Homo sapiens: one gene and its partner. The protein of the gene in region 2 purifies or fractionates together with the protein of the main gene of each other region. This does not show direct contact. Each region holds a gene or a part of one and is shown on either strand. Other genes may lie near its edges.

What was found.
Region 1: the proteins of PTPN20 (region 2) and PRH1 purify together in Homo sapiens (affinity purification with mass spectrometry, with the first as the bait; one large-scale study listed by BioGRID). This does not show direct contact.

Annotation. Positions count from the first base shown.
Region 1 is NC_000012.12:10,881,322-10,885,875, forward strand, and holds the start of PRH1 (salivary acidic proline-rich phosphoprotein 1/2 isoform a preproprotein), read right to left. Parts: upstream 2,935-4,554; 5' UTR 2,897-2,934; coding exon 2,833-2,896; intron 1,776-2,832; coding exon 1,740-1,775; intron 1,378-1,739; coding exon 914-1,377; 3' UTR 896-913; intron 1-895. UniProt on the Homo sapiens protein: PRP's act as highly potent inhibitors of crystal growth of calcium phosphates. They provide a protective and reparative environment for dental enamel which is important for the integrity of the teeth.
Region 2 is NC_000010.11:46,984,214-46,988,034, forward strand, and holds part of PTPN20 (tyrosine-protein phosphatase non-receptor type 20), read left to right. Parts: intron 1-16; coding exon 17-351; intron 352-3,126; coding exon 3,127-3,342; intron 3,343-3,821. UniProt on the Homo sapiens protein: Tyrosine-protein phosphatase targeted to sites of actin polymerization in response of varied extracellular stimuli. Has tyrosine phosphatase activity towards various tyrosyl phosphorylated substrates.

The DNA of each region.
Region 1 (4,554 bases), on a different chromosome or scaffold from region 2:
TAAGGGCTATTTTTACAAAGATGGGCACTGCAACATATCATATAATAGTGAGAATGTGAATCCAGCCTTAATATCCAGTGACAGGGATTGGTTAAATAGATTACGGAACAACCAAACAATAGAATAGTATACAATTGTAAAAACAAACTAACCAATAAACACTGAAGAGATCTAAATGAACTCATGAGAAAGTTTTCTAAACAATAAATTTTTCCAGTGAGTAAGACACAAATCTGAATATACAGTATGGTATAAGTGCTTGTAATAAAAGCATTATATATATTTATGTAGCAATATATATTTCAAAAAGTAGATTCCAAAGAGTAAAAGGTGGGGGTTTTGAGAAGGATAGAAGGGAGGAAAGATGAGTTAGGCTCTTACTATTTAGCTCTGTACATTTCGGTTCAGTGAGATTAGTTTTTGTTAGCTTAAGCATGTATGACTTTAAATGTAAGTATACTAAAAATGAGATACCATTTTACAACTGAAAGTTCAAGGACCACTTAGCAGGAATACTGGACCTGAAAGCCTGATGTGAGGCAGGACTGAGCAAAGCATGTTCAGGTGAAAACTTTAAATGGGAGTCTGAGTTTGAGGAAAGAAAATAGAGAGAGCCAAAGGGGGAACATGGTTCTATGTCCTCATTGTCAACCCTACTTAAGACATGTAATTTGAAGATAGTGATTCTCAAAATCAGAATTGCCTTCAAGAGCTTCTGTAAAACACAGGGTCACAGGGTCTTGATACTCTATACAAGAATATCTGAATAACAATTTTTAGAAATGTGTTCCAGGACAGGGCAATATTAACAGGTTTTCAGAGGATTCATTGGCACAATGAAGTTGGAGAACTGTAGCAGTTGGAGCCTTTGATGGATAATAAACTGGAATCGTACCTGTCATTGAATCCTAGATTACTGAGGAGACTGCCCCTGTGGAGGTCCTTGTGGGCGGCCCCCTTGGGGAGGTGGTCCCTGGGGCTTTCCAGGAGGAGGTGGGGGAGGACCTTGCTGATGGCCTCCCTGTTGGGGTGGTCCTTGTGGCCTTCCTCGAGGAGGACGGGGATGGCCTCCCTGTTGGGGTGGTCCTTGTGGCCTTCCTTGAGGAGGAGGGGGATGGCCTCCCTGTTGGGGTGGTCCTTGTGGCTTTCCCTGAGGAGGTGGTGGACCTTGTTGCTGCTGGCCTCCTTGTTGGGGTGGTCCTTGTGGCTTTCCCTGAGGAGGTGGTGGACCTTGTTGCTGCTGGCCTCCTTGTTGGGGTGGTCCCTGCTGAGGGCCATCATCCTGGTTCCCATCACCAGCAGAGGGTTGAGATTGCTGTCCTCCCAAAGGTGGTCCCTGACGCTCCTCATCTAGGAACTGCTCAGAGTCTCCTCCATCTGTGTGAGTTGAAACAAGAAGAGCTGAGCTCATGCTGGAAAACCCTCCTGTCTTCATACCTCTCTGTCTTCACCACACGGCCGGCCCCTCTCTGCCTGACCTGCCTCTCAACTCCCAACCTCCCCCCTTCCCAAGGCTTCCTAATTAGAACTCCTCTTAATCCACATAAGGGTGATGAAAAATTGAATTTCTTTACTCATGGTCCCCAGAATCAAGGTTGGGAGAAAACTGTTTGTATCTTTGGGGCATTGGTATTAGCCAATTCCTGACAAGAAAATGGTGATAAGAAGACACTGGAGAACTCATCAATTTTTCAGGGAAAAATGGAGACAGAGTTTACTGAGAATTTATTGGGATTTACCTGATATTACGAGGGGAACATCTTCCTGGCTGACATCTAGAAAAGAAGTACAGGATGATGGGAAAAGTTACTTCCTGAATCATTCAAGGCTCATAGTGTTCTACGAGGATAAAGGACCTCTGATCACACCCTGTGCATCCCCTTTGTGATCTCATCAGCCACTCTCTGATGCTACTGGAAGTGGAAGAAGATGTAAGGGAAAGCAGTATTGTTACTACACTGAGCGTCAACCAGGAACTCAACATAGAAGGGCCCCTGTTTGTCCTCTTTTGATTCCCCAAGCCTTGATGAGGAATGAAGATACAATAGGTCTTCTGATCCTCGGCATGAAAATTCTGCAGTCCCATCTGTTTTCTCATCCTCCTCTCTTCCCTCCACTTTCCTCCTCTATAGCATTTGCCTGTAAACCCTTAGCGCTTATTTAGTTAAACTGCTCTGAGTATTTCAATGACATATTTGGGGATTCTTCTGCCCTCTTTCATCTGTAAATATGTTGTTTATGTTTGCAAGCCTTCTCAACAGGAGCCACCAGACATAGCCACTTGGATATAATCTTACGCATGCCATTCCCAGCACATTGAAATACTACATTCAGGAGACAGAAAAATGACAATGTTTCACTCTGGTTATTCTCTAACTCTATGTAGACAGAGACAAGTGTTTACCCAATTCTCTGCCTCGGCAGTAGCTCTGACATGTGTTTATCTCCTTCATTAATGCTCATCCACTGTACAGCAAGGCCACCATCATCCCTGTCTACTGGGATCAGTACAGGATCTTCACAGCTGTACTTCCCTGAATCTGTCTTGCATTCTCCACATCCTTCACAGCAGTCCCATGTCTCTATATAATGCAAATCTCACTCTCTCACACCCCTAGTACGAATTCTTTATTGGATTCTATTTGTGCAACAAATAAACTATGAGGCCTTGATGAGGAATGGAGGTACAATAGATCTTCTGATCCTCAGCATGAGAACTCTGCAGTCCCATCTGTTTTCTCATCCTCCTCTCTTCCCTCCACTTTCCTCCTCTATAGCATTTGCCTGTAAACCCCAATCAGAGTCACAATATCTTCCCCCAATTCATCTTACCTTCATTTAAATCCTGAGCTGAGCTGAAGGCCAGCAGGGCCACTGACAGCAGAATCAGAAGCATCTTGCAGGAGGCTCTGGTGTCACTCCCAACTTTGTGCTGGGAGAAACGTGTCAGCTCCCTTTATAAAGACAAGCAGGACAATGGTGCATTTGAGCTCCCTACCAGGTGGGCCTCCTCGCCTCAGAGACTGGCTTCTGCTTTGCTTACTTCAGGTCAAGTGTATCCCTCATTTCTTTTGGGACTCTAGCTCAGCAGGAAGGGTTGGGTAGGATATTGTTTGTGTCTAATTCCTAAAAGGCACAACTATGACTTGGACAAATGTTTTGACGGAACTGTGTCCAAGCAGTCGGCACAGTGTCAGGATTGAACTTTAGACATCTTTTGGTTTTCAATCTGTTTGGAAAGACTGCTATTCTGCTTTTCACTGTGCTTTTCATTTCTGTGTATGTGAGTTTGTGTGGGTGTGTCGGGGGGTGGACACTGATCCTACAGCTAACAGTGAAGATGGTCAATATCTCTGACTGTTTTGATAGCCTCTTTCCATCTCTCATGATGTGTGTGCGTGGATATTTTCACATTTAGCTAAATTTTTCATGTAACAGAGATGGTCTTGCTTATCTGTGAGATGTGTGAGGACAGCACACTCCCAGGCACACATATATGAGAGAAAGGTGCTGGCAGCCTGCTCAGGCTACAAGAATTGTCCAAACTTCTGTGAATCTCACTACACTCAGGCAAGCCTTGGTGCTATACAACACAGGCAAGCTAAAATATTTGTATTTTAAAAATATCTTTAGGGTTTATTAAAGCAAAACTGAACTCAGAAACCACCAAGGAATTTCTAGACCTGAACAAACTGAATATATGGTTCCCTAAGTGAGCCACACGATGTCATATAGCTAAGACCTCCACTTTCTCCAGAATATTCCATAGAATTCATCCTCTACTTTATTTCTTCTAATAAATATTGTAATTGTCATCACTGATAATTAAATGGCCACAATTATACATTCATCTAAGATAATTTGTAATACCTGTCCAAGCCTCAATTGCCTTGATTGGTCTTCTGCTTTTACTCAGTAATTATGTCACCTGTTTCATCAGAGTGTTCTTTCTCACCAAGGATTTTTATCTGTAATATTCCAATACTCATTCTTTCTCATTCTTTTTCTCGCACTTATTTGTTGAAATTTTGTATTCTGAGTCTACCTTGCCATGTTTACTTTTCGTCCTATATCTTTTTTTTTCTCCCTACAAAGGTGTCCTTTATTTATCCTTCTAAGTAAAGGTGTGTGGTACTCCTCACTACCTTTACTTTCATTTTTGTCTGTATAATTTGACAATAAAAAATTAAGTTTCCAAAAAGCCCTGTCAGGGTCCTGGTTTGGTAGCTCTCTCCTCAGCTGCTGATTGCTCCAAAAATTAAGTTTCCAAAAAGCCCTGTCAGAGTCCTGGTTTTGTCGCTCTCTCCTCAGCTGCTGATTGCTCTGTGATACCTAGAAATTCCCTGCTCATCAATTCATAAAATATACTACTCAGAATCACCAGCTGCACTTTCCATTTCAGACCTTGAGTAGGTCTTGTGTAATTTTTCACTTTTTGTGCATGGTTAGTCTTTATTTGAGGATAGCTTGGTTGGAGGCATGGCTGAGAAGCCAGGTGACAGAAAATCATAAAGACAAGGCCCTAGACAGGTGTGCATGAGTGGATCCTGTGCT
Region 2 (3,821 bases):
TCTGTTTCTGTAATAGATGATTCAACACGCGTTCCTCTTGGAAAAAGCAAGGACTACATCAATGCTAGTTATATTAGAATAGTCAATTGTGGAGAAGAGTATTTTTATATCGCTACTCAAGGACCACTGCTGAGCACCATAGATGACTTTTGGCAAATGGTGTTGGAAAATAATTCAAATGTTATTGCCATGATAACCAGAGAGATAGAAGGTGGAATTATCAAATGCTACCATTACTGGCCCATTTCTCTGAAGAAGCCATTGGAATTGAAACACTTCCGTGTATTCCTGGAGAACTACCAGATACTTCAATATTTCATCATTCGAATGTTTCAAGTTGTGGAGAAGTCCGTAAGTTTTTAAACATCAGTATTAGATATATGTTTCACCACATAAGCAGATGTCTTAGAACTAGAAGTTAGGAGTAGGATGGAAAATCGATCGATGATACTTCTTAAGTAACTTTTTACTTGTCCCTGGTACCAGAAGCCACCACCACTTCTACTTCTCCTCAACCAGATTCTGTGGAGAAGAAAAAATTGGAAAAGAGAGGTGGGGCAGGGAGAGTGACTGTTGAAGTTGTCTGATTCTGGGTTATACCTGCCTCTGCCAAATGTAGCAGATACGTATTGAGTCCTTAAAGTATGCTAATCACTGGGCCAGGCACTATCAGTACTTACCGAATAGTGGAGAGGTTGGTTACACTCACTGATAGATACCTAACTTACCGTGTTCAGTGATAATGTTGAGATATGTCTTGGGCACTTTGGGGCTCAGAAGGTAAACACTTGGCTTTACTTGGGGTTTTGAGACAGGTTTACTGGAGGAGGTGGCATTTGTTTTGAGAATTATGCAAATGAAAAAGATGGAGGGAGAAAGTAGATGATCAAAATATAAAATAGCATAAGGTGTGTGTAGAGACAAATATAAGTAGTTAAGTGTTTCTGAAATGTAAAAGTTCAGTGCCAGGGAGTAATAAAAGATGAGATGAGGTTCTCAAAAGTAAGCAGGGGCCAGCTAGAATGTGAAATGTCTTAAATTTCAGCTAAGTAGCATGAACTTTATTATGAAGATAATTGGGAGACATTGAAGAATTTTAGTAAGTGACATGATCAACTACGGCTGTTGGCATGGGGGTGGAAAGCACAGACGCAAGTGTTTTGCAGATAAAATTGGGAGACATATGTGACTTATGACTTATGATTTATAAGTGACAGAGGAGGGGTTGAAAATATATTCAATACAGTAACCACATGTGGATATTTAAGTTTAAATTTAAGTTATTTAAATTTATGTAAAATAACAAATTGAGTTCCTCACCTGCAAGTAGCCACATTTTAGGGCTTATGAGTGGCATGTTGATAGTGGCTACTATATTGCCACTATTTAAGACATTTGCTTCAGTATAGGAAGTTCTGTTGAGAAGCATTGGTCTAGAATAATTCATGGATTCCTTGGTCTAATAGACTTAGAAAACAGAAAAGGAATGGTTTATAGGAGAAAGCAATGAGTTAGATTGCTCTAGTGGATTCAGTTGGCAGGTAGGTGATACATGTGTTAACACGAGTGAAGGGAATAGGAGTTGAACAGGAAACTTGCAGAGAATGGTGAGTTTTGGAGTCATCACCAAAGAAGTTGATTGGAGCACAATCACCAGGAAAAGGGTTGCTGAGTGATGCTGAGGTTTGACCCATACATTTGTAGTAGCAACAAAATATGTGATTATGTGTATTTTTCTAGCAGTATAACATTGAGATCCCTGAATACAGGTTATGGGACTGATCCAGAGAGAGAGATTAATTTTAAGGAGTTGGTTCAAGTGATTGTGGAGGGTTGGCAAATCTGCAGGGTGGGAAAGTAGGCTGAAGACCCAGGGAAGAATTGGAGTTTGAGTCCAAAAGCAATCTGCTGGTAGAATTCCTTCTTGCTCATGGGAGGTCAGTTTTTGTTCTCTTAAGGCCTTCAGCTGATTAGATGAAGCCAACCCACTTTATGGAGAATAACCTGCTTTACTCAAATTCTACCAATTTAAATGTTAATCTCACCTAAAAAATACCTTCACAGAGGCACAAAATAATATTTGGCCTAGTATCTGGATACCAGGGCTCAGCCAAGTTGACACATAAAATTAACTATCACAAATTTCAGTCGACACTGTGGATTAGAATAGAGCTCTGAGCACTAGCATCTTTATTCAGAAAGCTTAGGAAAAAGAGGTGCATTCGGGAGAAGCATAGGAGAAGTGAGAAACTCATTTTGAGTTCTTCCATTAGGGTCCCATGTGTGATAAAATAAGGGCCCCACACTGAGGAAAGGGTCATGATCCCTTTGGATGAGATATAGGTAAATTCAAAGTGCTTTATCTGACAATGCTGGGAAGAGTTTCATGACTCCACTTCAAGGGGGCTCAGCACAATAGTGGGACCCACAATCTACTCTCATGGTCATTGACTACCCTGTCTTCATCGCTGGAAGAGATCGGTGCCTCTCTTGTCAGACACCTATATGTCTTAATTAAATTTCATATGTCATTTCTAAACTAAGATACTTTGCCTTTTGGTCTTATTCCTAACATGACAGTCCATCTCTCACTCTAAGCATTTTGAAATCTTGGTTTTCCTGTAGCCTCATGGTACAGAAGAATGATGGTAGATTAGAATTCAAGACACCTACATTACAGTTCCAGCTCTAAACGTGTGAACCTTCTGACCTAGCATACATCTCTCGTCCCCCTCATCCTTAAATTTTCATCTGTAAAATGGAGATAAAATGGTGCCTATCTCACATGGTTGATGTGAAGATTAAAGGAGAGAATTCATGTGAAGCCCCTAGCATAGTAACTGCCACATAGCAAGTGCTTAATTTTTGTTACCTGTTAATACTGGTATTTTTATTGTTGTTACTGTGCTCTCCTTTGTAAAATGGAGAAAACCTCTATTCCTAGCAACTTCCAGAATTCTTATAAACATCAAAAAGAGGTTTGAGTACTTTTTGAAAGTTCTATATAATACCAAGGTAATACCATATAGCCATTATTATTATCATTTGAATATTAGAAGTTGGCGTGAGGTCTCTAATATAAGAAATCAATAAATGTCTTTCTCGCTCTGTTTCTTTCTCTAACAGACGGGAACTAGTCACTCTGTAAAACAGTTGCAGTTCACCAAGTGGCCAGACCATGGCACTCCTGCCTCAGCAGATAGCTTCATAAAATATATTCGTTATGCAAGGAAGAGCCACCTTACAGGACCCATGGTTGTTCACTGCAGTGCCGGCATAGGCCGGACAGGGGTGTTCCTATGTGTGGATGTCGTGTTCTGTGCCATCGTAAAGAACTGTTCAGTAAGTGTGTGAATCAAGCAGATACACTGATGCTGTTGGTGTTTACACACTACATTTAATAGCCTGATCATTTGGAAGACTAATATTTGGTCTTCAAAAGCAACTTAGTAAATCAAAAGCACATGAGCTTTGGATACCTGATTCTCACCGAACTTGCTGCAGGTTCCTGGGGGTGTTTGTGAGGATTAAAGTATGTATTGTAAATAATGGCTTAGGACAGTGTCTGGAACATAATAGATACACAGAAAATGTGAGTTCCATTTCCTTTTCCTTCCCTGTATCTTACACGGGGTGTTTAGACTCTTACTAGAGAATGTTGATGGAATGTGCCTGTTTTTAATGAATATAAGTGACAAGCACATAAGAATGTGAGAAAAAATGTAGACTTCTGAGTTAATGAGGGGTCCCTGTTTGACTGCCTGTTTTGCCACATACTTTAGATTTTGGTGACTTTGGGTAAATTGCTCATCCTCTCTCAA